Homo sapiens: one gene and its partners. The protein of the gene in region 7 interacts with the protein of the main gene of each other region in a biochemical or structural test. Each region holds a gene or a part of one and is shown on either strand. Other genes may lie near its edges. The genes, in order: FMNL3, GAGE12J, DLL1, MTMR1, XKR7, RSBN1 and PATJ.

Region 1 (4,484 bases), on a different chromosome or scaffold from region 7:
TGAGCCGAGATCGAGCCACTGCACTCCAGCCTGGGCGACAGAGTGAGAATCCGTCTCAAAAAAAAAAAAAAAAAAAGAGATTTTAAAAGGGTAAGATACGCTGGACGCAGTGGCTCATGCCTATAATCCCAAAACTTTGGGAGGCCGAGGCAGGTGGGTCGCGTGAGGTCAGGAGTTTGAGATCAGCCTGGCCAACGTGGCAAAAACCCATCTCTAATGAAACTACAAAAATTAGCCAGGCATGGTGGCATGCACCTGTAATCCCAGTTACTCAGGAGGTTGAGGCAGAAGAATTGCTTGAACCCAGGAAGCAGAGGTTACAGTGAGCCGAGATCGCACCATTGCACTCCAACCTGGGCGACACAGCAAGACTCCACCTCAAAAAAAAAAAAAAAAAAAAAGGCAACATAAGGCAGTGATAAAATATTATAGAGTACTATGCAGTAATGAAATCATGATACTGGGCCGGGCGCAGTGGCTCACACCTGTAATCCCAGCACTTTGGGAGGCCGAGGTGGGTAGATCTAAGGTCAGAAGTTTGAGACCAGCCTGGCCAACATGGTGAAACCCCATCTCTACTAAAAATACAAAAAAATTAGCCAGGCGTGGTGGTGGGCGTCTGTAATCCCAGCTACTTGGGAGGCTGAGGCAGGAGAATTGCTTGAACCCAGGAGATGGAGGTTGCAGTGAGCCGAGATCGGGCCATTGCACTCCAGCCCGGGCAACAGAGTGAGACTCCATCTCAAAAAAAAAAAAAAAAAGAAATAATGATACTGAATAATATATAAGCAAATGAGAAAATGCTTAAAATAGTAAATGAACAAATCAGTTTACAAAACAATATACACAGTATGATCCCAATTGTTAAAAAATATATATACACGTACATCAAAGTGTTAATAGTAGATGGTGAGATTATAGGTTTTATTATCTTCTTTACACTTTTCAGTAAGTTCCAAATTTACCTAATAAATATTTATTATTTTCATAATCAGGAGAAAAGAAGCTATTCTCAATCCTCTTCCATCCTTTTAAAAACCTTCTCATACATTATTCCCTCTTTTAAAAACCATTTGGAAACAAAAACAGTTATATCCTACAATCTAGCAAGTTCTATTTTGAGTTTCTATCCCAAGGAAAACTCTAAATATTGAAAATACTTTGTACACCAAGATGTTCATCACAGCATTGTTTATGATGACAAACAGAAGCAAAAAACCTAAATATCTAAGAAAAGGTGTATGGGTAAGCAAACAAAGGTACCTTCACTTGATGGACCATCGTACAAGCATTTAAATGTTTACAGGCCAGGCTTGGTGGCTCTTGCCTGTAATCCCAGCACTTTGGGAGGCCGAGGTGGGCAGATCACTTGAGGCCAGGGGTTCGAGACCAGCCTGGCCAACACATGGTGAAACCCCGTCTCTACTAAAAACACAAAAATTAGCCAGGCGTGGTGGCAGGCGCCTGTCATCCCAGCTATTTGGGAGGCGAGGCAGGAGAATCGCTTGAACCCAGGAGGCAGAGGTTGCAGTGAGCAGAGATTGTACCACTGCATTCCAGCCTGGGTGACAGAGTAAGACTGTCTCAAAAACAAAAACAAACCACTTACAATTACTAGCCTGGGAAAACTAATGAAATAACAAAAGCAAAAAACAAACAAAAAAACTGGATAAAAAACATATATACTGGCAGGGCATGGTGGCTCATGCCTAAAATCCCAATACTTTGGGTGACTGAGGTGGGAGAATCACTTGAGCCTAGGAGTTTGAAACCAATGTGGGCAACAAAGCAAGACCCCATCTCTACAAAAAATGAAAAAATTAGCCAGGCATGGTGGCGCACGCCTGTGGTCTAGCTACTCAGGAGGCTGAGGCAGGAGGATCACTCAAGCCTGGGAGTTCAAAGCTGCAGTGAGGTGCAGTGAGCCATGATCATGTCACTGCACTCCACCATGGGTGACAGAGCGAGACTCTGTCTTAAATAAATAAATCAAATATCAAAACATTGTATAAAACTCTATGCAGAGAAAAAAATATAAAGGTTTTAAAGCACATCAGCTGCATTTGGTAAAGGAACTAAGAAAATATTTGCATTTGGTAAAGAAACTAGAGAAAATATGGATGTTTTTCTTTAACCTAAATCTTTAGTCTTTTCTTCTTTCTGAATTGTCCCATACTTTCTTTAGAGAATAAGTATTACTTTAAGAGGAAAACAAAACAAAACAAAACAAAAAAACGCTGAATCTCCCTCTGGGCAATGAAAACATTCCCAAATGACAGAGTCCACTCCATCAGTCCCTTCCCCACCACACACAGGCTTCCCCCAGACTAAGGCAGGGTCATATCAGAAGGTCAAGGGAATAAGACTCCTCTCTGTGGTCTAGGGTCTTCTCTGTGGGGTCTCTGAACAAGAAGAAGGTTCCTCTGACCAGCTGCTGTGAAAGGCCCTTTCCCTGCCCCCTCCCAAGTTCTATTCTAGCCTGAACTAATTCACCACAATCCTGAGGGCTGGGAAAAAAATTTCCACCATGGTGATTTGGAACCTGATATTTAGTCCAAGTTTTTCCCAGCCCATTTCTGTGTCAAAGGAGGCCCCTCAAAGCCTCTTAGACAACTAGCACCCAGGCCAGCTTAGCTCCCACATCAATGCTACACTTACAGAAAAACCCCCAAGTTGTCAGTCATCACCAGGGAAATGTGAGAGGAGAAACTGCAGCAGGGATAGCTCCTGTCACACAACCCTACCCTTATGCCCTGAAAGCCTCCTCCTAAGGGATATACAGGGCTTTTTCTGGCATCAGAACTTTTAGACTCCATGTCAAGTCTGTAGTAAATCAACAAAGAGAAAAATCAGAGTACAATCACAACAAAGACAGACAGCTATCCTTTCAAAGACCTTAGAGCCCTCTGCCTCCCCTCTCTATGGAAAGTCCAGTACTGGCCAGAATACTAGCTTCTGAGCAACTGAGTTTGGGTAGTAATCTAGTTTGGACCAAAACACACTGGGACTGTATCAGACCAGAGATTGGCTCTCATTCTGGTATTCATAAAGAGGAGCTCCATTAATTGCCCCAACCCCAAACTTCTCAATACCCAACAGAATGGGAAGTGCTACTCAGATAGGGGGTAAGGAAGGATGCCAAGAAGCAGTGTAACACAGCAGCTTCACAACCTTTTTCCCATCGAGGCACACCTAGAAAATATTACTGTTTCTACAGTACATGGGGTAGAAGCTGATCCCATCCAGAGGGGACTGACTGGGAACTTTAGCTGCCCCTAGGAATAAGGGGATCAGTATTCCAGCACATCTGTGATCCATCTGCAGCACACTAGTAGGGAAGCCCTGAATTAAGGCACTGGGCTGGGTTAGGATTCTTGGAATCAATGTTCTCATCAAATCTTCTCATAGCCCTCATCTCAAGCTCTTCAACTTTGGCTGACAGATCATGTGTCTAGAACAGAAGGCTGGGAGCCTGTGGTCTTGACTCAGCACTGATACAACTTCCCCAGCGAGGATACTCTTCAGGGGGTTTTCCACAGACACACTTGGGGCTAAGGAAGCCCTCCAGCTTACAGCAGCAGCCATATTCCGAGACTGGATATACACAACAGGGTAATTGGTTTTATCAGATTTCTAAACTTTAAAACCCCTTTTTCGGAACACAAGTGATCTCAGATCTGAGTCACTGCTGAGAGGTACAAACTTAAAAGCTACCATTTACTAAGCATATAGTAGATGCCAGACTCTGCTAAGTATTTGACTTCCAATTTCATTAAATCCACACAACAACCTCATGTGGCAAATGCTATTATTATCCCCATGTATAAGAGAAGACTGGGAATCAGATTAAGTAACTTGCTTGAGGTCAAACACTCTTCTAACCAAAGACTATGGATGAAACAGTTGAATCCACTCTGACTTCAAAGTCCATAAGCTTAACCAGGACACCACTATGTCACCTCAACAAACCTCCCAAATAGCTTTTTCAAAAAACCTAACCAATTATAATGAAGCTGACAATCTAGGAAAGAAAAAGGTGAGAAAGGAACAGTTTATCTGACTGTTTCACACCATCAACAAAAATAAGCTAATCTGGCCAGGCACAGTGGCTCATGCCTGTAATCCCAGCACTTTGGGAGGCCAAGGCGGGTGGATCACCTGAGGTCAGGAGTTCGAGACCAGCCTGGCCAACATGGCGAAACCCCATCTCTACTAAAAACACAAAAATTAGCCAGGCTTAGTGGCACGCGCCTGTAATCCCAGCTACTGGGGAGGCTGAAGCAGGAGAACTGCTTGAACCCGGGAGGCTGAGTTTGCAGTGAGCTGAGATCGTGCTGCCGCACTCCAGCCTGGATGACAGAGCCAAACTCCATCTCAAAAAAAAAAAAAAAAAAAAAAAAAAGAAGCTAATCTATAATCTATATTGAGTACTTACTGGGTGCCAAGCACCTTATATACAGGGGCTCACCTAATTCTCACAATCT
Region 2 (3,408 bases), on a different chromosome or scaffold from region 7:
TCCAGCCACTCGGGAGGCTGAGGTGGGAGGACGGCTTTAGCCTGGGAGCCAGAAGTTGCAGTGAGCTGAAATTGCATCACTGCACTCCAGCCTGGGTGACACACTGAGACTCTGTCGCAAACAAACAAACAAACCAAGAAGAGGGAGAATTCACAATTTCACAAGATCTTATACTACGTATTCAGCTCTCCACACGGAAAAACTAGGATGAAGCAGAGGGCCCGCTCACTGTCTTACTGACAATGAAATCTCAATTCAGAGATTTTCAGATGACTCGGGCCAGGGTTTCATGATTTGTGATTAACAAACCATGCGAAGCAGATGATCTCTGTGTCCCACGCATTCTATGCAACAGGATCAGAGTATGAAAGAAACGGAATGCAAAATGGTTTTAAAGTCTCTGACTTAAACTCACTATTTTCATAAGAACCAAAGATAGGTTTAGAAGGGAAAGGACTCACTCAGAATCTCGCCAAGGCTGTAAGAGCTGGTATTAGAACCCGCATGAGTGCTTCAGCATTTTTCACACCAAGTGATGGGTGTTACAAACGTGTTATGTATTGATTAAAAGCAGACCTTTACAAAAGCATCTGAAAATTGTGAGCTACTGGTTTAAGGATTTATACTCAAAACTTTTAATTCAACATAGCTTTGACTCAGTTTGTTTCCCTATCTGACAGTCTATCAGTCGGGTGCTGGGGCCTGAACTACGTTTCAAATAACCTTTATATAAGAAGTCTGTTACTAAAGACGCAGTATTGTTACCTCTCTGTTATTAAAAATATAATGCTGGGTCGGGCACGGTGGCTCTCGCCTGTAATCCCGGCAATTTCAATGGTCGAGGCAGGTGGATCACCTGAGGTCAGGAGTTTGGGAACAACCTGTGCAACATAACGAAACCCTGTCTCTACTAAAAATACAACAATTAGCTGGGCGCGGCGGAGCCCGCCTGTAAGCCCGGCTCCGCCAGAGGCTCAGGCAGGAGAATCACTTGAACCCTGGAGACAGAATTTCCAGTGAGCCGAGATGGCACCACTGCACTCCAGCCTGGTCTTCAGAGCGAGACTCCGTCTCAAAAACATAGTAAGACTTACAATATGATACTGTGGAAACAGACACCCTACAATGTGCATGCCTAATGGATTGCCTACCTTCTTCAGGCGTTTTCACCTCCTCTGGATTTGGCGGGTCCATCTCCTGCCCATCAGGACCATCTTCACACTCACACCCAGTCTGTGGGTGACCCTGTTCCTGGCTATCAGCTTCAGGCTTCGGCCCTTAAAAATAAAAAATACGTATCAATTTAAGCAGTAAAACATAACGCATGAATAAGAAAATAATATTCACGCTCTCGGTATTATTATATAAAAGCTTTAGCTAACATAATAATAAATGTGTTGATAAGAATCCCAGGAACATTATTTCAGGAGTCCGTTAGCAGAAAACAGGAAAACAAGGTGTTCCAAATATTACCCTCTTCCTTTCCGAAGACTGCCCTCAGACAACTTTGCTGCCTCCTTTGCACTTCTCTCTTATTCTACTTCTGATTGTCCTTCTCGTATTAAATGACTCAAGGCTCAAATCCCGTCTCTCACAGCACTTACACTCCTAGCGCTTAGACTCTTACATGGCATGAGTAGCCACCAATAAACGCTGAGTGAGAAAACTCTTTTAAAAATACATGAAAAAGCCCAAACTGCAGAATATTCTGCAAACCAACTGGTCTATCCTCTCCAAAAATGTCCGTATCGTGAATGACAAGAAAAATTAAGGAAACATTACAGGTTAAAGGAAACTAAAAACACCTGAAAAGCACATGCAAGGTGTGATTCTGAACTGGACTCTGGATCAGAAAAAGAAATCCTATCAATAAAATTATCTGGGCCGGGCGTGGGGTCTCACGCCTGCAATCCAAACATTTTGGGATGCCAAGGTGGGCAGAGCAGGTGAGGCCAGAAGTTCAAGCCCGCAGTGGCCGGCGCCTGTAGTCCCAGCTACACGGGAGGCTGAGGCATGAGAATCCCTAGAACCTGGGAGGTGTGGGTTGCAGTGAGCCGAGATCGCACTACTGCACTCCAACCTGGCCCACAGAGAGAGACTCCGTCTTCACACAAAGAAAAAAAAAAAGGAAAAAAGAAATTTTCTGGGGAACTGGCAAAATTTGAGTATGCACTCTGTATTAAATGACTCCATTTTCTCATTGTTAAATTTCCTGATTTTCATCTTTGTGCAGTGATGATCCAAGAAATGACTTTCTCTTTGTTCTGACGATATACACACCCTCAAGTACATAGGGTAAAGGACCATAATACCTGAAACTTTATCGAGACAATTCAGCATTAATAACAGTATGTATGTGTGTGTGTGTGTGTGTGAGTGTGTGGGCAGCACGGTAAGAGACGGAGGGAAGAGATGTGAAACTGATGAAGCGAAAGCTATTAACAATTGGTGAATCCAGATGAACAGTATATGAGTTCATTGTACTATTCTTGCAAATTTTCTATGAATGCTATGTCTTGAAGATACATACAGTAAAAATTTAAAAGAATATATGATAACTGCACTGAACTTTAGGAAGAAAGGAATTTCCAATTGTGGTAAAAAATACAGATATCCTAAAATTTACCATCTTAACTATTTTTAAGTGGTACAGTTCACTAAGGAGTTACGTTTGCAACATTACCAGCCACTAGGCACAAAAACTTTGCATCTGTGTTTTCCTATACCATGAAAACTTTACTTATTTAATGAATTTATTTATGTATTTATTTATTTATTCATTTATGTATTTATTAGCGATGAGGTCTCACTGTGTTTCCCAGGCTGGGCTTGAACTCCAGGACTCAAGCAATCCTCTCACCTCGGCCTCCCAAGTAGCTGGGACTATGAGTGCATGGCATTCAGCCCAGCTTTAGACCTTTCTCCTAAATGACAATCTAAGGATAAACCACAGGACATGTATAATGCTTATATTCAGCCCTAGAGTACCAACAGCAGTGTGCGTCAGCTGAGAAATCTGAAGTCTACCACGTGGGTAGGATTTCAGTTACAATTACAATGTCAGTTTCTGAAGGATTGATTAGCTGGACGGATTTGAGGACTATGGAAAATCTTACAGTCACGACACCCATTACCTATTGGGGTAAAGAGAAACTTCACTTTGTTCAAATAAAGTTATATTTAGGTCCGAAGGTCCTAAAGGTAATATTCCATAAATGAACCCCGTGAAGAACAAAGCACCAAATATAACATTGTTTGTGAATCACAGAAAATATACTGTCCCGCACTGAGAATAAGGGAGTGGGTGGACAGCAATTAATGGGCATTGTTGTCAGTCAGATTCTAGGAACTTTTAACAGTGCATCCCTGGAATAATCCATGACCTCCATTACATAAACGCTTCCTTTC
Region 3 (4,170 bases), on a different chromosome or scaffold from region 7:
TGACATGGTTTAGGACCTCAAATACGAGAGGTGTCCAGGTCTAGCTCTACAAGTCAGAAACCACACGGCCAGCATCTGGACAGGCGCTGTGCAGAACACTCTGGTGGCTGCATTAGTCGCCACAACAGCCGGGCAAGAGCATGTGCCACTCGACCCAGGTTTCAGATGGGGAAACTGAGGCTTAACGAGGGTGTCCTTGCCCACAGTTACACAGCAAGTGAGAGGAGCAGGCACTGACAACAGGGGAGGGAGGGAGGGGAAGGATGACCATTCCGGAATGCTCCGGCACATCTGGGGCCCAGCTCTCCTTGCTGTGTGTCTCCTTTGGGCAGCCAGCCCCTCGCTGCTAGCAGGAGGCTCTCTGTCCTCACTCAGGGACACCCCCAACTACTGTGCTGGGTGGCCACACAGCTGGGCCATCCTCCCAAGCTGGAGTGGCCGGCACCTGTGGGCATCACTTACTGAACCTCAGGCGGCCGCAGGTGCCCGAAGCACCTTGTGGCCCTGAGCAAGTCATTCACTGCTTGGTCTAGGTTTCCACAGAGAACTTCATAACAAATGCCCTGGCCTCTCTCATTCCCCAGGCCTTTCCAGACTCAAAGATAGAGTTTCCATCGAGAATTCCTGGCGGTCTGGATAAAAGTGATTCATAAACTCGAGGTCACTCACAAATGCTTGTTTTTAATGCCACCTCAGTATTGACCGCTCGCCCGAGTCTCTGAGCAATCACCAGCTGCCCCCTTACCATTAGAACAGGGTGAAGAGCTGCAGTAGTCAATTTTCTTCTCACAGTTGAAGCCGGAGTAGCCCACGGGGCAGCGGCAGCTGTACCCTCCATCGGGGCTGTCTGAGCACCGACCCCCGTTAAAGCAAGGGCCGTCCGCACAGGTCATGGCACTCAATTCACAGATTTTGCCGTAGAAGCCGGGTGGGCAGGTACAGGAGTAGCTGTTCTCGAGATCCTACACGATGGAGAGGTCAGAAAAGGCTTTCCAAAGTTGCTCCAAGGAGCCCACACACTCCATTCAACACCAGGGCACCCCAGCTTCCGGGTGAGATGCCATGGAGCCTCCGACTCACCGTGCAGCTCCCTCCGTTCTTACAAGGGCTGGGGTCACACTCGTCAATCCCCAGCTCGCAGGTGGCACCTGTGTACCCAGGCCGGCAAGAGCAAGTGTAGCTCCCCTGGCCCGTGTTGGTGCAGGTGGCTCCATTCTTGCAGGGCTTATGGTGTGTGCAGTAGTTCAGGTCTGTGAAGGGTGGGGACAGGAAAAGTAGGAGATAGGAAGCTCGACATCAAATGCAGGAAGACTTTATTTTTCCAGTGATCAAACAGCCAGGGAAGTCCAGGGCTGCTCTGGAGGGAGCAGGCTGCCTCAGGGAGAGAAGGCTTACCCTGGTTGCAGAAAAGGCCCCCCCAGCCTTCCTGGCAGTTGCACTGCCAGGGCTGCTGGCAGGTGCCATGGAGACAGCCTGGATAGCGGATACACTCGTCACAGTACCGGCCCTGCCAGCCCACTCTGCACCTTGGAGAAAAGCAGAAGACTCAGATGGACGTTGACTGTTGCTGGCTTTGCAGTGGACATTCTCACCCTAGAAACCATCTTCCCGCAGCACCAGTGAGCCTCTGGTTCTCCAGATTAGCAGAACACTGGGTCACCTTGGGAGCTGCAGCCTGGGCCTGGGCCCCACCAGAGGTTCTGGCTTCTTGGGTGTTAGGGCAGCACCAGTGTCAGCATCTCAAAAATCACTCCCTGAGTGATTCTAGGATGAGGCAACATTTGAGAACCATTGAACTATACTATCATTTCCTGTGCCAACTCTTTTTAAACTACTATCTGTAAATTCTCATAGCCGTTAAGGGGCTTAGACGAATGACAACTCCATGACCTTACATGCTGCCAAACATTGATTAAGTAGAAACATGAGAAAACGGCCCCCTGTTCAATCAATCTTACTGGAGTTTTTCGAATGATCACCTAGGGCTGTTTTTACAAATACACCAGCTGTGAAAAGATAACAAGAAAAGGCAACAAAACAAAACACCACCTTGTGCAGACTTACTTGCATTCCCCTGGTTTGTCACAAAATCCATGCTGCTCATCACATCCAGGCAGGCAGATCGCTACAAGCAAAGGAAAAACAGGGTCAAGCCCCACGCCAAGTACGTCCCAACAGGGCTGCCGCCCTTGGGGCCAGGACACAACTCGCCGGCTTCAGTCAGCAAATCCCAGCTGAGTTAATCTTCCCAGGTTGTGGAGGACTGACCCCCCTGCCTAGTAGCCTGGGACTTGACTCAGCCCTGGGGATGAGCATTCTTCTTAACACAGGGGCTCAAGGACAAAAGGGCTCTCGGAAGCCCCCACCCCCACCCTATCCCCTTTTCTTCTAAGAGAGGGTCAGAAGTCTTCCCCCTCCTCCTCCCCCACTTCCCAATTCTGTGCACAAAGCTCCACCTCTTAATATCCCAGAAAGTGTGTGTGCAGATAAGAGTGGACAGCTGGTATGCAGGGTGCCAGGGCAGGACAGCTGCTCCATTGTCTGTCCTCCACGGCAGCTGCCCCAGCGCAACAATGCCGGCCTCCCCCGCGCCCCCGGCCCCACCTCCTCACACACACCCCTCGCGTGTACACACACACACACACACACACACGCACACGCACCCCTTCCGCCAATGGGAGCCGGCGGGTGTCCCTGCGCCTATCCCCGGAGAGATCTAATCTATGGCACGCGCGAGCTGGGGGCGGGGAGAGACTTCAGTGTTTGAAGAAAAAAGTTTAAGTTTCTGGCTACCCTGTGGTGAAGAGAGGCAGGGAGGAAGGGTGGGAGGCAGCAGACTGGCCAGAGGCTCCCGCAGGGCAGGGAGTAGACAGTGGGCTTGAGGCTTGGAGCTGGCTCTTGCTGCCTGGTTATGAAACTCATTAACAAGCAGCTCCACAAGTTGTTTTTTGTTTTTTTGTTTTTCCCCAGAACCAGTTCAGGCCAAGGCAAAGCTTAGAAGGAGCTCAGTAAGTTCCGGAGGGAATTTGGGAAGCTAAGGAGCAAGGACATCAAGGCACTCAGTGAATGGGAAGACCCACCCTCAACCCCAGGCACTACCCAGCTCCTGCCAGAGGTTCTGGGCCTCCCAGAGCCCCTCTCCAAGGTTGTCCAGTTCCAAGGAAGGAGAATGACAGTTCCCTGGAGTTTCTGGGCAGCTCCAGGACCTACCCAATCCCCAGCTGTAGAGAAATCCGGTACCAATGGGCTGGGACGGCCAGGCGTGCAGGCGAGGCCTCAGTCAGCTGGAGAGAGGGCTCCTGAGGTCCCCATGAGCCAGAACCAGGAGCCAGCACGGCCCCAACCCTGCCCTAGTCACCTGCCTGCCATGACATTGACACATCAATACCTAATAAGAGGCAGGTAGAGCCTCTGTCACTATTGGGAAGACATTGCTTCTCCAGACAAGGTGCTGCCTGAGCATTCAAGCCAGACGGGGCTGTGCACCCCTCGCCCACACAGGCCTTGGAGACCTGGCCTCAGCAGCCCACAGGAGTGAAAGCCTGCTCTCTGGCCAGCATAGACAGTGCGTGTCACAGGGAGTATCCGGAAAGGCGTTTGCTCCAGAGAGGTCAAGCACACCAGCTCCAGAGAGAAAATGGAACGTTTCCCAGTGTGATGCTGTTCCAGCACTGGGAACTCGGGTTGAAATGGTGCCCCTGACACACAAGCTCTCTCTGTGTTCCTCCCTTCCTTCCTCCTCTCCCTCTCTAATACACACACCCTGGGGGTAGCACTGGCTTTACTTCCTGACCCCTGGCCCTGTCTCTAAAATCCTCCCTGATTAAGAAAGGCAGTTCCGATAGTGGATAAACACAGCCTGGGATGTTAAAATGTCTGCGTTGACCCCAACCCCCCCACTGACGAGCTGTGACTTATAGCAATCCACTTCTGTCCTCTGGGCCTCAGTTTCCCCACCAGAACATCTCTACAGTCCCAAGCCCCCCGTGGCTCAGGAAGCCCCGTCCCTGCGCGCGGTCCGTGTTCGTGGACGAGTGAGCCAGCGGTGCCTTCCCAGAGACTCACGCTCTGTGCAGTAGGGCCCTTTCCAGCCAGGGTTGCACACTTTCTCCCCACGCTCCCCACAGGTGAAGTGGCCGAAGGCATCGTCCCGGGGACGGCAGAAAACGG
Region 4 (4,484 bases), on a different chromosome or scaffold from region 7:
ACTCAATGTTTTGGTCAGGATGAAACAATTCTGACTACATGAGCTCTAAAAATCCCCTTCCATCCCCAATATTCTATGATTCTAAGAAAAACAAATCCTAAATCAAACTATTACTAAAATCTAGCCCCATTCCAATTTGATTGACTAATTTTACCTTGTCTCCTAATTTTAAAAACATCTTTGTATCTCAACAATAATATACGTGGCAGGGTAAGGACAAAGTGAATATACAGTCTCTTATAAAATCTGACACTCTGCCACCCCACCTCTCATTTTCCTCCAGTGGCCAAGTGACTCAGGATTACAACAGATGCAAACTCTGGGCTCAAACCATTACTCCCAGCTGTCTGCTACTACTTCTGTAATGATGTCCCTCCCACGCAGCTATGGCATCATGCTCAGTATCTAAGAAAGAAGCATTTTCTCTAGGATGATTCAGTGAAACCAGCAATGCCAACTGGTAATACAATAGCATGATAACTTGTTGTTGCTACTCCTTTGTCATTCTCTACTACTTTTTGAGGGTATGACTGAAGTTCCCCTTATACTTAGTTATAGGAAATCGTAAAAGAGGGAGTCATAGCAAACAGATTGTTTATATAATTAGGTATTTGTTGAGAATCAAAGGTATGTTCAGGTTTATAAGCTTATTTTTCTGCTTTCCATTTTTGTTCACTAGTTTCTTTTTTGTCTTAAATCTCTCCATATTAGATCTAACGCAATATATATTCCTATATAAATGACAATGTTTATTACTTACAGGGACTCTGCCTTTTGCTCGAAAAGCTGCCACTTTTGAAAGGTCATCATCTTTTACACTAGTTGGCACAACAATGATGGCAGGGTAGGTGTCACAGAACTCATAATTACTGTTTATTTTGGATATTTTCCAACTCTCATTTGGCAAGCCCTGTAAGGTGTTGGAGAAAGAAGAAGAGGGTGAAATGCATGACTTTACACTTTGAAAAAGTACTAAGCATGAAGTACATCCATTTCTTATTTGCAACTAAAATCCGTTTATAATTTATTGTTTATTGTAACTTAAAAGTCAATATATATATTTATTCGGTAAAACCCATTTCCTAGACATTTCTAAAAATCTAAAGAAGCATAAGAATATCCAAACCATACTAAAACATGAAAATTATACGCTAGAATCACATTTCTATATATTTCTTGTCCTATTTTCTATAAATAATGAGCTCTGTTATTTTTGAGAATATACTCAAAAGTCCTTTAGAAACACAGATACCTCTTACGAATGTCTAAAATAAGTAACGTAAAACATTATACCAAATATAAGGTAGAGACAACGTCATGAAACAAACGTCATGAAAATAAGATCTTAGTGGAATAATTTGAAGCTGACAATGCACTGAAGAGTTCCCAGACCCGGGAACACTGGATCAGACAGATGTAGTCACACCACATGCTTCGAATCTAACTGTAGTCAGTGGTTTGGATCCTTACTCATCAATTCTTTACCAGAACATCTAATAAAAACCATCTGGCAAATTTGGTTTTTAAACCCGTCCTTGTCCTTGAGTCCCACTCACCCTCTGGAAACAGGATGAACAAACATGACAAAGTCTAAGGTTTGGCACAGGGAGAAGAGAGAATCAAGGAAAGATGGAGAACCTATAAGCTAGCAGTTAAACCTGTGCATAACTTGTTCGAAAAAGTTTCTTCTCCACCACATCATTTCTAACCTTTTAGAAGAGAAAAAGATGCTCAACCTATTATTTTCAGTTTGATAAGCAATATACTTTACCTGTCTCTTATATTCAGATACTGGATCATAAACTTTCCAGCCATTAATTGGAAATTTTTCTTTATAGCTGAATGCAAATAGTGCCTGGACACAAAAACCACAAAACACATATGTTACTATTTCTTTTTATATCATATACCCAATATTAAAGCTTTTCATTCTAATATGAGCTGAGTGTATTAAGATTCCTATTTTAGTCTGTAAATTTTACAGCAACAAAGTAGCAGCTTTTCTTAAGCATTACCCAGAACTGACAAATTTCAAATATTCTAATATTAGTCACCAACAGAGGAAAAAAGAGAGGAAAAAAAAAAACCTCTGGAAAAAGGAATAATTAAACATAGGATATTTGGACCCCCACAAATGCATGCAGAAAAGGTTTACTCTGGTGTATTTACCTGTCCGTTAGAAAGAGGAAATGCATGTTTGTTGAGGTTTTCAAATATCCCTAGTTTACTCTGTTCTTCCTGTTTATAAGCAAGCCGCAAGTTCCTCATATCCTGTTAAACAATTAGCAAAACTCGGTTATTCAACATACATCAGGCACCTATAAGCCAGATACCGTGCCATAAATAAGGAAATTATTTTTTTTTAATTCATTTCTCCTTTTATACTTTATCCTGCTCCAACGGCACAGTCTCCACTCATTGCAACCTCCGCCTCCCTGGTTCAAGCAATTCTCCTGCCTCAGCCTCCCGAGTAGCTGGGATTACAGGCACCCACCACCACTACCGGCTAATTTTTGCATTTTTAGTAGAGACAAGGTTTCACTATGTTGGTCAGGCTGGTCTCAAACTCCTGACCTCACGTAATCCAACTGCCTCGGCCTTCCAAAGTGCTGGGATTACAGGCATGAGCCACTGCGCCTGGCCCCACTTATGTTTTCAAAGAAGGACTATACATACATTCTCATGTGCATAGGCTATCTGTGGAGGGTTACATTAGAAATCGGCCACAGTGGGTGCCTGAAATGAGTGGAACAGGGTGGCAGGGTGGTGGGTGGAAGGAGACTGATTTTTTACTATACACAGCTTTTGTATCTTTTGAATTGTATATCACCTGTTAAAAAATAAACCCCACACCTTGTAAAGCTCTTAGGCATGATCTGAGAAGGCTGGGAGCATTACCTTAGTAATCTAGGTTAGAGAACATTTAAAGCAGTTGTTAGCAAATGCTCACCCCAGCCATAAAAATATCTTAGTAAAAGAGCCCCAGGATGCCTGCCTAAGCAACATAATTTCCTGACATGCCCTCCCTCTAAGCTACATGGCTACACACATACACCTTGGTGGCTGACTGAGCTGACTTGCTATTTAAGATTGCTTACAAGCTAAGGAAAGAGCACATGCAAAGATTCTGGGATGTGTGTGTGTGTGTGTGTGTGTGTGTGGGTGGGTGTGTCAAGTATGAACCACCAAAGGAAAGCCCATGTGACTGGGATGGCCAGAATGAGAGGAGGGCAGTTCGAGACCAAGCTGCAGAGGAAAGTGGGTCAGGCAGAGCAGTCTTGTAAGGAGAGTTTTTCTTTTAGTCTAAGGATAATGGGAAGATACTCAAGCGTCATGAGAAAGGGGACGACATGTTTCAAAATTGCAGAACCGATCAAGTCACCCCTCTGCTTGCCATTGTTCCATATGGGGAACCCTGCCTGAGAAGGACAGTTGTCAGGGAGTGACTAAAGTGAGTTTAGTAAGCCAACAGATTCATGATCTGGAAGAGTAAAGGGTTCTTTGGAAAAAAAAAAAATGGTTTTGAACGCAGTCTAGGACCAACCAGAGGGAGCTATCTTCAGAGATTGAATCAAAATAAATAGATTGTAAGGAATCCTAACCCAAAATTTGGAAGGGGCGCTGATGATCCTGCAGGCAGGATCTCTTTTCTGGTACTTCAGGTAGGGTTTTTGGTAAACATTACCAAAGTCAAGTCACTGGGAATAAAATACATCAATTAGGAGTGGGTCCTACATGACTTCGTGATTAAAGTTATCACACACATTTCTACTTAAATTATTAGAAGAAGGGTACAAAATAAACAAATAAGCCCAGCTCAACATAAAAATTCCAAGATAGCCAAGAAACTTAATCTCATTTTTAATCACAGAATTTATGGGCCACTGCTGTCCCTTTAGGAAGTCTCTGACCATCCACATTGTTCTGAACGTAGTCTTAAAACAACAAACTGGGGAAATGTATTGGTCTCTGCTTTTCACTTGACTTCTCTGAGATGTGACAAACAATCACTTAGGTTATAGGTCCACGTTAATTAGAAATACAGTCAGCCCTTCCTATCCATGGGTTCCACATTGGAGGATTCGAACAACTGCAGATGGAAAATATTTTTTAAAAGGATGGTTGCATTTGTGCTGAACATGCACAGACATTTTTTCTTGTCATTATTCCCTAAACAATACAGTATAACAACTATTTACATAGTGTTTACACTGTATTAGTTATTATAAGCAATATACAGATGATTTAAAGTATATGGGAGAATGTTCTTAGGTTATATGCAAATACTACATCATTTGACATAAAGGACTTGGACATCCATGGATTTGGGTATCTGAGGCAGAGGTCCTGGAATCAATCCCCCACCGATACCAAGGGACAATTGGACTTCGATGGAAAAGGTTTACTTCAAAGGGTTACATAATAGTTTAAATTCGATATGAGATTTGAAGAGGTTGCTATCCCGAAAACATTTGAGTTACTAG
Region 5 (3,353 bases), on a different chromosome or scaffold from region 7:
GGGAGTGTTGGGGACTCTGGCAGACAGGAGAGTGAGTGTGTGCCCTGCCTGTAGGTACTAAAATTCAAATGTTTGGGAAACTGCTGGCCACTCATATTTGGCCCACGTGCCACCAGTTTGAGACTTACGGTTCAAAATGTTGAGAAGGTTCTGGAGTGTCCTGCCAAGTGGAAACCCCTCAGCGGAAGTCAGGGACAGAGGCTGTGGCTCCCTCTGAGACTTTGCTAGTCCAACCCTAAATCCCCATCACCTGGCTATCTGAGAACTGAGCCCACTGCCCTCTCAGCTGAAAAGGGAAATCTGGGGGGTCCACAGGGTCCCTGGTTTGGGAATCATCTGATAAGGGCTACAGGCCCCTCCAGTGCCTCATGGGGTTAGAGGCTGCTGGAGTCTTCTCCAGCTTGGGGGCCCCTGGTTAGGAGGAATCTACATTGGGTTGCAGGGGAGTCCAGGTGCAGGATGTGGACTGAAAGCCAGGACCCAAGAGTCCCATTCTGTGCTGGCCCCTGCCACCTTTGGCACCTGTCTCCCTCCCAGTTCAAGCTGTGGTGGGGCCTGCAGTAGAGGTTGGTAGGGGGAGCTGTAGTTTCTATATTAAAGTGCTTTGCAGTGTCTCAATGGAAGGGAACAAGTGGGTGTCAAGCCGCATGGGCAGTAGTAGGGTTGGGGTTTGAGCCCCCTTCCCAACCATAGAGGCTTCTGAGACCTGGGGCTGGGGAGGAAAGGAGCTTCAATGTGCCATTCTGGTTGGGGAGAGGATAGGACATTTCTGGGTCCTTGGCTGCTGCCGGTAGAGGTATGGGGAGGAAAAACTCTAGAGTGGGAGATGTGGAAGTGGAAAAGGAAGGCCCTGTCCAGGCCTGGCCTGGTTTCTGGAGACAGAAAACTCCCCAGGGGACAGAGAGGTTACCCCCTTGTGCTTAGCTTCTGCCACCCTTCCCTTCTCTGGAGGAGAAGGCTGCCCTCTCCTCAGCAACCCTGGCCTTTATTCTATGCATAACCACTGCAAGGGCACCCCTGGCCAGGCTGAATGGGTGGGGGTCCCAGGGCACCTGCAATAATCTCAGAATGGAGGGTATCCTGGGACAAAGAGGGGGTACAGAAGGTGCCAGGGGGGAAAAGGTGATTCCTCCATCTCTCTCTCACCCAAATCCCCCCAGATCGAATCTGACCCTTTTCCCTGGTCTCCATTGTGCTAAACCACCGAACTTGGAGGAGCCTCATATAAACATAGCCCCCAGCCCCACTGGCTTTCCGAACCCATCATGAAATAGCTGGAAGGTATCTGAACCGTTCCCATAGCTCCCTCATTATTTTCTTCCCTGAGGATCCTGTGGTTTAGGAGATTTTTCTCCCAAACCAGCCTCATTTCTTGAAGAAGAATTCATTTTCCCATATTAAATTAACTCAAGCTGAGCTTCTGATTGCAGATAAATGTTTCTAAGGCCTCAAGTCAACTTCTAGGGCTTGAAGGTGGGGGAATATATGTATTTTATTGAGTTGCTTAATACAAAATTCTCAAAAGCACTTGTGGGCACTCATTCCTGCCTTCACAGGCCCTCAGGGTCTGGGACCCCACGTTGGGAATCAATGGTTTAGACATCCAGCATCCTATTTTACTGAAGGGGCAAGCCCAGAGATGGGAGATGGCCAGCCCAAGGTCACACAGCAAGTTGGTGGCAGGGTGAGACCAGAACCCGGTTCTTTTGAGGGTCCCACCAGAATATCCCCAGCCCTGATCCTCCCCTCCATGCCCCTGGAACTCTAGGAATCACTAGCCATGCCTGAGGGGCTAATCTCCCTCTGTCAGCACAATTCCGAGTGATTCTTCCCCTCCCTGTCGTCTCTTCCTCCCTAACGGGCCCTCACCCCTGTCCTCTTCTGTTTCCTTTTCCTGGTCCCACCTCCTGGTATTTACTACATCTGTGCCATCCCTCATCCCCCTGACCCCCATTCACCCTCCGAGCTTCCCCCAGGAGGGGGAGGGGGAGGGGGCCCCGAGCTGGGGCCTCTTTACTGAGACTCTTTTGTACACCACAAACTTTTTGTATATTTTTAATTTTGCTGCGACATGAGATATTAAAAGTCATTTCAGTACGTGCTGCTTGTGTCCTATTGTTTTGGCTGTTCTGGGCCAGGGGAAGGAGATGAGGAAGGAGGGATAGGTAGGGTACCACTTGCCACAATCTCTGTGGCTCAAGAGAGAAAGGCCTTTGGCTGGGAGAGGGTGGGACATTACACAACATCTCCTGTTTATTGGGCAGCATTTCAATCAATCAACCAGAATCCTCAGGCCAAAAGTTCTACAGATTATCTCCAAACTCATTTTACAGATAAAGTGGGTGGGGGGAGATAAAGGGTGGGGATACTTGTCAGAGATCACAGAATGAGTCTATGACAAAATCAGGGCCCAGACTGAAGTTCCTAACTCCACTACAGCCAATACTTATTGAGAACCTACTGGGTGCCAGGCAGTTCTTGGCATAGTGAACAAGAAAGATATAAAACAGGCAAGGTCCCTGCCCTCAAGGAGCTTACATCCTATCCTAGGGGGTATTGCCTCTAAGAGGGCCTCTGTCTCCAGGGCTTCCATCCTAATCCAGTGGTTCTCAAACTTCAAAGTGCATGAGAATCACTTGGAGAAGAGGGGATATGTTTTAAATGCATATTTCTGCCTCCATAATCAGGGAATAGGTAGAACATGCCTGGAAATCTGCATTTTTAAAGTTCTTCAGGTGTGTTTAAAGAACATGCCTGGGAATCCTGCATTCTGGTGCAAGCGGATCTGAGGACCTGGACCTTGCAGATCTTTTCTTTTCTTTTTTTTTTTTTTCCAGAGACGAGTCTCACTCTGTCACCTAGGCTAGATTGCAGTGATGCAATCATAGCTCACTGCAGCCTTGTACTCCTGGGCTCAAGCAATCCTTTCGCCTAAGCCTCCAGAGTAGCTGGGACTGCAGGCACATGCCACCATGCCCAGCTAATTTTTAAAACATTGTTATAGAAATGAGGGTCTCCCTGTGTTGCCCAGGCTGGTCTCGAACTCGTAGTCTCAAGCAATCCTCCAGCCTTGGCCTCCCGAAGTGGTGGGATTACAGATGTGAGCCACTGCACCCAGCCAAGGACCACTACTTTAAAGTACCCTCCATAAACCTGATCATGGCATTTCCTTGCTTTAGAACCTCCCATGGTTCCCCAGTGCCTTCAGGATAAAGGTCAAACTCTTCTGCCAAACTCTGACTTTTGGAAACTGGGCCTAAAACCATCTTGAGTCTCATCTCTGACATAACCCACCTGGCCCCCATAGCCTCTCCATACCACCCATTTTCCTGTTTCCATAAGACTCTCCTGAT
Region 6 (4,484 bases), about 52 Mb from region 7:
GCCCCATGTTCTTTAAAAAACACACTTCTGACCTAATGCTGACTGATAGAACTTTCTCAGATGATGGAAATTTTCTGTATTTGTGCTGACCAATATGGTAGCCGTATGTGGTTCCTGAACAGACTTGAAATGTGGCATGATTGAGGAACTGAAATTTTGATTTTATTTAATTCTAATTAATTTATAATTAGTCACATATGGCTAGTGGCTACCACACTGGACAACACCACTCTAAATATCTGTAGTTTGCCAACATGTGAAGAAGAGAAGTGGGTTAAGATAAGCCCATTTAAACATTTTAACTTTTGGCTGAGAGATTGTTGGATTATATACCCAAACTATATTTTGGGTGAAAAAGAATTTTTTGGTCAAATACATTTGAGAAAAACTGTGTACTGTAGCCTTCTACATATGTAACATGAATTGGCAAACTGGCATTTTAAAAGTTTTGAAAACCCTACAGAAAATAAACTGGTTTAACTTTGTTTAATCCAGGCTTTTGCACATAGTTTGACTGATATCTTTTTTGTCCTCTGAACATCTTTATTGTTACAGTGGTATGCAGGAGGCATGCCTCTGGTATTAATCTGAGTTTAAATCATGGCTCTAACACTTACTGTGTGAGCCTGAACAAATTGCTTTACCCTCTCTCAACTGCACTTTTCCTGTCTATAAAATGGGGTTGTGGTATTTCATTTATAAGGAACTTGTGTGGATTAAATAGGGCATTGTGTGAAAGTACTTACAGCAGTGCCTGGCTCATTGTAGGCACTTACTTAAAACCGGCCTTTATTATTTTATTATGCATGGTCCCTAAAACAACTCTAAGATTAATAAGGAGAGTGGGCAGATTCTTGTTACTTACAAAGCTATGTCCTTCCTTCGCTTATCCTCAGATTTTTGGAAACTATTTTAACTGTTTTTTTTTTTTAGATAATTAATGATTCACAGGAAATTGCAAACATAGTCAAGTCCTTACCTTTTACCAGTTTCCCTCAGTGGCTACATCTTACATAACTATTGTATAATATCAACACCAGGAAATTGACATTGGTACAATGTATATGTAGTTATATGCTATTTTATCATATGTAGATTAGTGTAACCACCACTACAATCAAGATACAGAACTGTTCCACCACCACAAACCCTTTACAGCCTTAGGCACTCCCTCTGTCTCTCTACTGTCCCTGTCCTCTGGCAGCCACTAACCTGTTTTGTCATTTTGAGACTATTATATAAGTTGAATCATACAGTATGTGATCTTTGGAGATTGCCCTTTTTCACTCAGTGTGATGTCCCTGAGATCCATCCCTCTTTTTCATTGCCGAATAGTGTTCCATGGTATGGATGTACCATGGTTCACCTATTGAATCATTCCCGTATAAGAAAGGACATTTTGATTATTTCTAGTTTTTGGCTATTATAGATAGAGCTTCTATGAAAATTGGTGTTCAGGTTTTTGTGTGCATGTAACTTTTCATTTCTTTGGTCGTATGGTAAATACAATTAGCCCTCTGTATCCATGGGTTCCACATCAATGGATTCAGCCAACCTGGGATTGAAAATATTTTCAAAAAAACATTGTCTGTACTGGACTTGTGCAGACTTTTTTTTTCTTGTCACTGTTCCCTAAACAATACAGTATAACAATTATTTATATAGCATGTACATTGTATTAGGTATAAATAATCTGGAGATGATTTAAAATATAGGGGAGGATGTGCATAGGTTATAAGCAATTATTATGCCATTTTATATGAAGGACTTGATCATCTTGGATTTTGTTGCCCTGGGAGGCTCTGGAACCAATCCTCCATGGATACCAAGGATGACTATATATATTTATTTTGTTTGTTTGTTTTTTAAGATACTGCCAAAGTATTTTCTGGAGTGTCGGTACCATTTTACATTCCTGTCAGCGGTGTAAGAGAAATCCATTTTCTCCACATTCTTGCCAGTATCTGGTATTGTCACTATTTTTATTTTAGCAATTTTAATAGACGTGTGGTGATACATCATCATGATCTTAATTTGCATTTCCCAAATGGCTAGTGATAATACACATCTTTTCATATCATCATTTGCTGTCTATATATCCTGGTCAGTAAAATGTCTCTTTATACCTTTTGCCTATTTTCTAATTGAATTTTGTGTGTGTGTGTGTGTGTGTGTGTGTATACATATACATATATATATATATATAATTTTTTTTTTTGAGACAGAATTTCACTCTTGTTGCCCAGGCTGGAGAGCAATGGTGCAATCTCGGCTCACTGCAACCTCTGCCTCCCGGGTTCAAGCGATTCTCCTGCCTCAGCCTCCCGAATCGCTGGGATTACAGGTGCCTGCCACCACACCCAGCTACTTTTTTATATTTTTAGTAGAGACGGGGTTTCACTGTGTTGGCCAGGCTGTTCTCGAACTCCTGACCTCAGGTGATCCACCCGCCTCAGCCTCCCAAAGTGCTGGGATTTCAGGCGTGAGCCACTGCGCCCGGCCCTTGAATTGTATATTTTTTATTACTGGGTTTTGATAATTTTTTGTAGATCACAGGTGCAGCTTCTTTGTATGGTTTGCACATATTTTCTCCCAATCTGTTGCTTGTCTTTCCATCCTTTTTGTTTGTTTGCTTGTTTTTATTTTGGTTGTTTTTTTTTTTTTTTGAGATGGATTCTCACTTTGTCACCCAGGCTGGAGTGTAGTAGCACGATCCTGGCTCACTGCAACCTCCACCTCTTGGGTTCAGGCGATTCTCCTATGTCAGCCTCCCGAGTAGCTGTGATTACAGGCATCTGCCACCATGCCCGGCTAATTTTTGTGTTTTTCAGTAGAGACGGGGTTTCGCCATATTGGTCAGGCTGGTCTTGAACTCCTGACCTCAGGTGATCCGCCCGCCTTGGTCTCCCAAAGTGCTGGGATTACAGGCATGAGCCACCACGCCCAGCCTGTTTGTTTTTGTTTTTTTGGGGAGGGTCTCACTCAGTTACCCAGGCTGCAGCACAGTGATGTGATCATGGCTCACTCTAGCCTCAACCTCTGGGGCTCAAGTGATCCTCCCACCTCAACCTCCTGAGTAGCTGAGACCACACGTGTGCACCACCACACCTGGCTAATGTTTTTTTTTTTTTTTTTTTTTTTGATAGAGGCAGGGTCTCTCTGTGTTGTCCAGGCTGGTCTCAAACTCCTGGGCTTAAGTGATCCTCCCGCCTTGGCCTACCAAAGTGTTGGGATTACAGACAGGAGCCACTGTGCCTGGTCCTTTCTACCTTCTCAGTGGGATACTTCACAGAGCAAAAATTTTAAATTTTGTTGATATCCAATTTACTAAGTTTTTTTTTTTCTTTAATGGATCATGTTTTTGGCATCATATCTAACATACCAAGTCCTAGATCCCAAAGATTTTCTCCTTTGTTTTCTTCTAAAAGTTTTATAATTTTAACTTTTGTATTTTAATCTGTCATCCATTTGAGTTAATTTTGTACAGGTGTGAGGTTTAGGTCGCCATTTTTTTTCTTCTTGCCTAAGGATATCCAGTTGCTCTAGCACCTTTTGTTGAAAAGATTAATCTTCCATTGAATTGCTTTTGCACTTTTTTCAAAAATCAGTACAACCTGTAATGTAACAATGATTTTTTTTTTTTTTTTGAGACAGAGTCTCGCTCTGTGCCAGGCTGGAGTGCAGTGGTGTGATCTCAGCTCAGTGCAACCTCCACCTCCTGGGTTCATGGGAATCTTATGCCTCAGCCTCCTGAGTAGCTGGGATTACAGGCGCCCACCACCACACCCAGCTAATTTTGTATTTTTAGTAGAGATGGGGTTTCACCATGTTGGCCAGACTGGTCTCAAACTCCTGACCTCAGGTGATGTGCCTCCCACAAGTGCTGGGATTACAGGCATGAGCCACTGTGCCTGGCCTAACAATGGTTTTTACAATTTAAAATAGTTGGAACGACCTTGTAGCGCATGGAAATCATACGAAATTTAAACTGTGTCCAGAAATAAAGCTTTATTGGAATATAGCTCTGTTCATTCATATATATTGTCTATGGTAGTTTTTGCACTACAGTAGCAGAATACAGTAATTGAGACAGAGACCATAAGACCTGCAAAGCCTGCTGTTCGGCTCTTTAGAGAAGTTTGCCACCCTTGAGTTCACTTAAGAGACATGTTCCTTCCTGCACAGCAGTTCAACAGTATTTAATCTGAATTCATGTGGAGACTAATTACAAATTATTACAATCTCAGACATTTGGAGTTGTTCATAAACAGTTGAAACAAAAATTTAATCTGTAAATGCTAGGGTAAACTTGTTCATCTTTAAAACAGAAAGAAGTGATTTTCAGAGAGATGAAGTGAAATGCTTAAAATTTTTTAGTTGGTGATAGAGCTGAATACAGAACTCAATTTTTTTCCCTCATGGCCCAGTTGACCTCTCTTTCTGCTATGCACACTGGGGTTGATTATTTAACAGAGATATTTAAA
Region 7 (4,484 bases):
TTAAGAAACTTATAGCACATTTGGCCGGGCACGGTGCCTCACGCCTGTAATCCCAGCACTTTGGGAGGCCAAGGCAGGTGGATCACGAGGTCAGGAGATCGAGACCATCCTGGCTAACACGGTGAAAACCCGTCTCTACTAAAAATACAAAAAATTAGCTGGGCGTGGTGGCAGGCGCCTGTAGTCCCAGGTACTCGGGATGCTGAGGCAGGAGAATGGCATGAACCCAGGAGGTGGAGCTTGCAGTGAGCCGAGATCGCACCAGTGCACTCTAGCCTGGGTGACAGAGCAAGACTCTGTCTCAAAAAAAAAAAAAAAAAAAAAAAAAAGAAACTTATAGCACATTCATAAGATGGAGTACTATGAAATCGATAAAAATCATACTATATGCTCTCAAAAAATACTTATTTAGTATGTGCCACATGATACCATTTTTGTTTTATAAAACTTTACATGTACAGGTTAAAAGACTAAGATTGAAAAAATAAATAAATAAAAATAAAACTTACACATAGCACAGAATATAGTGGATGAGATTTGCCAAAAAATTCATAGAGGTCATCTCTGTGCTCTACTGTACTTTTCTAAGTCTATTTATTGATGTTATTTAGACCATATTTTTATCTCAGTAACTTGAAAGAGCACACTCACAATCCAATAAACTGTATTGGGGAAAATGTACATTTAGTGCAAATCCAACACAAACCAGAAAAATACATACAGCAAAATGACTGACTTACCCTGTTTATCTCAACAGTCCTTGGTTCCATATCTGTGCCTATAAAGAAGCAACACAATTAACTTTTTAATATTAAAAAATAATATATTTAGCATATAATATTGCCCCATGAAAAATGGTTTCATTTTCTAGGTCTTTCAAGAGAAGACACTAAAGCAAGCAGGTATTGTACCCTTCCTCAGCATCCAAGCTGGTAGCCAAGTCACCAGGGGCCATGTCCTCTTTTTTTTTTTTTTGACACAGAGTCTCGCTTTGTCACCCAGGCTGGAGTGCAGTGGCACCATCTCAGCTCACTGCAACCTCTGCCTCCCAGATTCAAGCAATTCTTCTGCCTCTGCCTCCAAATAGCTGGGATTACAGGTGCCTGCCACCACGCCCGGCTAATTTTTGTATTTTTAGTAGAGACGGGGTTTCACCATGTTGGCCAGGCTGGTCTCAAACTCTCGACCTCAAGTGATCCACCTGCCTCGGCCTCCCAAAGTGTTGGGATTACAGGCGTGAGCCACCGTGCCCGGCCTGCTGTGTCCTCTATTTTAAAGAAGTGCTCTCTGTTTGAGATCAATGTGGCCATAACCATTTGGTCTGACAAAAGTGGATGGGCTATATAGCAGCAGCTGCCTGGAACATGGTGAGTAAATGCTTGGAGGATGACTCATTTTTGTGTGTGTGTGTGGTTTTTTTTTTTTTTTTTTTTTTAGATGGAGTCTCACTCTGTCGCCCAGGCTGGAGTGCAGTGGTCCGATCTTAGCTCACTGCCATCTCTGCCTCTTGGGTTCAAGCGATTCTCCTGCCTCAGCCTCCCAAGTAGCTGGGATTATAGGCATGTGCCACCATGCCCGGCTAATTTTTGTATTTTTAGTACAGGCGAGGTTTCTCCATGTTGGCCAGGCTGCTCTCAAACTCCTGACCTCAGGTGATCCGCCTGCCTTGGCCTCCCAAAGTGCTAAGATTACAGGCATGAGCCACCGGGCCCGGCTGAGTCATTTGTGTTTCATTGTACATTTTTTTCTACCTTAATCAAAGATAACCCTCCATTCAACAAAAGACTTAAAAGGACCCCTTGTCCCACCCTGCCCCCAAGGATATACACACTTTTTTTTTTCTTTTAACTGGCCCAATTTTCCCATAGAAGGTATACACACTTCTGACCTTTCTCCAGTGACCTGTAATTTATTAATTTTCTCTTTGTAAGTAATTTTATTTTACCATGCACTCCAGCTTTCTGCTTTTCTGTTTTTCAGGTGCTTTGTGTTGTGCCACTGAAGGAATTTCTTTTTTTTTTTCTGGAGACGGAGTCTTGCTCTGTCACCCAGGCTGGAGTGCAGTGGCACGATCTTGGCTCACTGCAACCTCCACCACCCCCGCCAGTTTCAAGCAATTCTCCTGCCTCAGCCTCCTGAGTAGCTGGGACTACAGGCGTATGCCACCACGCCCGGCTAATTTTTTTTTGTATTTTAATAGAGACGGGGTTTCACGGGGTTAGCCAGGATGGTCTCGATCTCCTGACCTCAGGTGATCCGCCCGCCACAGCCGTCCCAAAGTGCTGGGATTACAGGTGTGAGCCACCATGCCTGGCCACCACTGAAGGAATCTCTATGGCTTTCCTACCTTCAGAACATGCCTTTCAGAAAGCTCAGCTTATGTGGCCAAGCTCAAAAAATTAAAAAACATTTATATTAAAGAAGACTGGTTTTTAAAAAACACATTTTTTTTTTTTAATTTGGGTAACAGGATAGTTTTGCTCTGGGTGTGTCCGTGTAATACCTGAATTTTTCTGGGAAGGATCTGAAACTCTTTTTGTGCCAACCAGGTTTTGCAGGCCAGTGATGACAGGAGCGAAGGAGGGATGACAGCTGCTGTGTGCACTCTGCTGACTACCCTGAAAGAAAGACCCAGGGGTCACCTGTGTGCAGACACTGACTTGACCCCCTAAATGCATACTTATCCATTAGTGTGCCAATTACTGATGTCACCATAACCATCTAACAGAAAATCGTGAGGAGGCCAGGAAAGAAAACAAAAATCACCCACACTATTCTCTTACTACCTCAACCCAATCCCATTTAGACATTTCCTCCATTGCTTTCTCCATTATGTGTGCTTTTGTATATGGTTTCAATCACCAAGGTGGAGACCATAGAATCATTTCAGCTGTTCTTGCTCCACATAAAATCAAAACCATTTTCCTAGGTTGCCACATAGTGTTTATGTATATATAGTCAGCTAATGGGCACTATGTTTCATTTGGGGTTACAGTCAACTTTATTACCCAAAATGTATTATGTATTTTGCTAAAACAAGTATAATAAGACCTTGATTAGCAGAAACCTGCCAAAATAGAACCCTCAATTGTGGGGAAAAAAGCACCAAATCTGAAGGGAAAAAGACTTGTTTTAGGGATATATAACATTTTTTTCTCAAAGATTTTCCTAGAATCAGTAATAATTTAGTCCAATCTGCTAGATCTCCATTACCTGTCCCTTTATTCATTTAAATGAATATGTGAGGTTAATACTGTGTAGTCTTTTAAGGCTAGTGGCTGTTCAACAAAAACTGTATACATAGTGAAGGGCCTTTCTTATGTAGACGAAAACATTGCAAATAATGAATATTTTTTTCTACCAAATTATTCTGCATCAAAATTTTAAGCTAAGCCTAAGATCACTGTTATCAGTTCATAAATTATAATTTGGTCCATTTTCTTAACTCTATGATGAAAGTTGTTTAATATTTTAATTCCTAAAATATGAAAACCTTCAAATATATAGAAAAGCTGAAAGAATTATACAATAGACATCCATATAAATAGCACCTAGATTTCACAATGAGTATTTTGCTATATTTCCTTTATCACATAGCCATTTATCTATTCATCACTCATCTTTTTTTAAAAAATTCATTTCAAAGTAAGTTGTAGATCTCAGTATACTTCATAGTGGCTATATACATTTAAAGGAGTGTTTTTATACTTTTCCTTAAAGGATATGATTTAAGTAAATGGTACTATAATAGATAACTAATCAGAACTGAGGAAGTACAGTATATTATAACTTTTGCCTTTAAAAAATTTCAGAAAGGTGTGTTTGCCAAGACCTTTATTGCATTGTATTGTAATTTTTGAGGAGTCTCCCTCTGTCACCCAGGCTGTAGTGCAGTGGTGCAATTTCAGCTCACTGCAACCTCCGCCTCCCAGGTTCAAGTGATTCTGTTGCCTCAGCCTCCTGAGTAGCTGGGGTTACAGGAGCCCACCACTATGCCCAGCTAATTTTTGTATTTTTAGTAGAGACAGGGTTTCACCAGGCTCTTTGGCCAGGCTGGTCTTGAATTCCTGCCCTCAAGTGATCTGCCCGCCTCGAACTCCCAGTGCTGGGATTACAGATGTGAGCCACCACGCCCGGCCCCAAGACGTTTATAAAAGTACACTTTGCCTGACTGTGTTCCCTTAGTTGGCTGAGGAAAAGATCTCGCAAGTATTTTTTCCTCTGTGGAGTAAGGAAATTTCTTCCTGGTTTGGGGGAAAGTCATTTTAAAAAAAGACACTTGGTGGCCCCAAAGCTAGAAGTTATTTCTCTCTTAATGAACTCACTTTCTATGAATTAAGTCAAGAGCTTATTCTCCTTAGCGCTCAAAAGAAGGCATTGATCTCCCTATTTTGTAACTGCTCAGAAGGAAATCTGTGTTCCTACAAGATCCTGATTTTTTAAATGGGTCTGGATGTAAAAATGTTTGGCAATGGAATCTTGTT

Evidence for each region.
Region 1: the proteins of PATJ (region 7) and FMNL3 interact in a test that uses a peptide from one of them, tested with the Homo sapiens proteins (one large-scale study listed by IntAct).
Region 2: the proteins of PATJ (region 7) and GAGE12J interact in a test that uses a peptide from one of them, tested with the Homo sapiens proteins (one large-scale study listed by IntAct).
Region 3: the proteins of PATJ (region 7) and DLL1 interact in a test that uses a peptide from one of them, tested with the Homo sapiens proteins (one large-scale study listed by IntAct).
Region 4: the proteins of PATJ (region 7) and MTMR1 interact in a test that uses a peptide from one of them, tested with the Homo sapiens proteins (one large-scale study listed by IntAct).
Region 5: the proteins of PATJ (region 7) and XKR7 interact in a test that uses a peptide from one of them, tested with the Homo sapiens proteins (one large-scale study listed by IntAct).
Region 6: the proteins of PATJ (region 7) and RSBN1 interact in a test that uses a peptide from one of them, tested with the Homo sapiens proteins (one large-scale study listed by IntAct).

Annotation. Positions count from the first base shown.
Region 1 is NC_000012.12:49,700,335-49,704,818, forward strand, and holds part of FMNL3 (formin-like protein 3), read right to left. Parts: intron 1-4,484. UniProt on the Homo sapiens protein: Plays a role in the regulation of cell morphology and cytoskeletal organization. Required in the control of cell shape and migration. Required for developmental angiogenesis.
Region 2 is NC_000023.11:49,324,559-49,327,966, reverse strand, and holds part of GAGE12J (G antigen 12J), read right to left. Parts: intron 1,278-3,408; coding exon 1,152-1,277; intron 1-1,151.
Region 3 is NC_000006.12:170,284,174-170,288,343, forward strand, and holds part of DLL1 (delta-like protein 1 precursor), read right to left. Parts: coding exon 4,066-4,170; intron 2,126-4,065; coding exon 2,065-2,125; intron 1,527-2,064; coding exon 1,396-1,526; intron 1,251-1,395; coding exon 1,081-1,250; intron 963-1,080; coding exon 746-962; intron 1-745. UniProt on the Homo sapiens protein: Transmembrane ligand protein of NOTCH1, NOTCH2 and NOTCH3 receptors that binds the extracellular domain (ECD) of Notch receptor in a cis and trans fashion manner.
Region 4 is NC_000023.11:150,727,896-150,732,379, reverse strand, and holds part of MTMR1 (phosphatidylinositol-3-phosphate phosphatase MTMR1), read right to left. Parts: intron 2,272-4,484; coding exon 2,170-2,271; intron 1,856-2,169; coding exon 1,772-1,855; intron 911-1,771; coding exon 761-910; intron 1-760. UniProt on the Homo sapiens protein: Lipid phosphatase that specifically dephosphorylates the D-3 position of phosphatidylinositol 3-phosphate, generating phosphatidylinositol. Could also dephosphorylate phosphatidylinositol 3,5-bisphosphate to produce phosphatidylinositol 5-phosphate.
Region 5 is NC_000020.11:32,001,286-32,004,638, forward strand, and holds the end of XKR7 (XK-related protein 7), read left to right. Parts: 3' UTR 1-2,102; downstream 2,103-3,353.
Region 6 is NC_000001.11:113,805,496-113,809,979, reverse strand, and holds part of RSBN1 (lysine-specific demethylase 9), read left to right. Parts: intron 1-4,484. UniProt on the Homo sapiens protein: Histone demethylase that specifically demethylates dimethylated 'Lys-20' of histone H4 (H4K20me2), thereby modulating chromosome architecture.
Region 7 is NC_000001.11:62,119,315-62,123,798, reverse strand, and holds part of PATJ (inaD-like protein), read right to left. Parts: intron 2,619-4,484; coding exon 2,504-2,618; intron 779-2,503; coding exon 741-778; intron 1-740.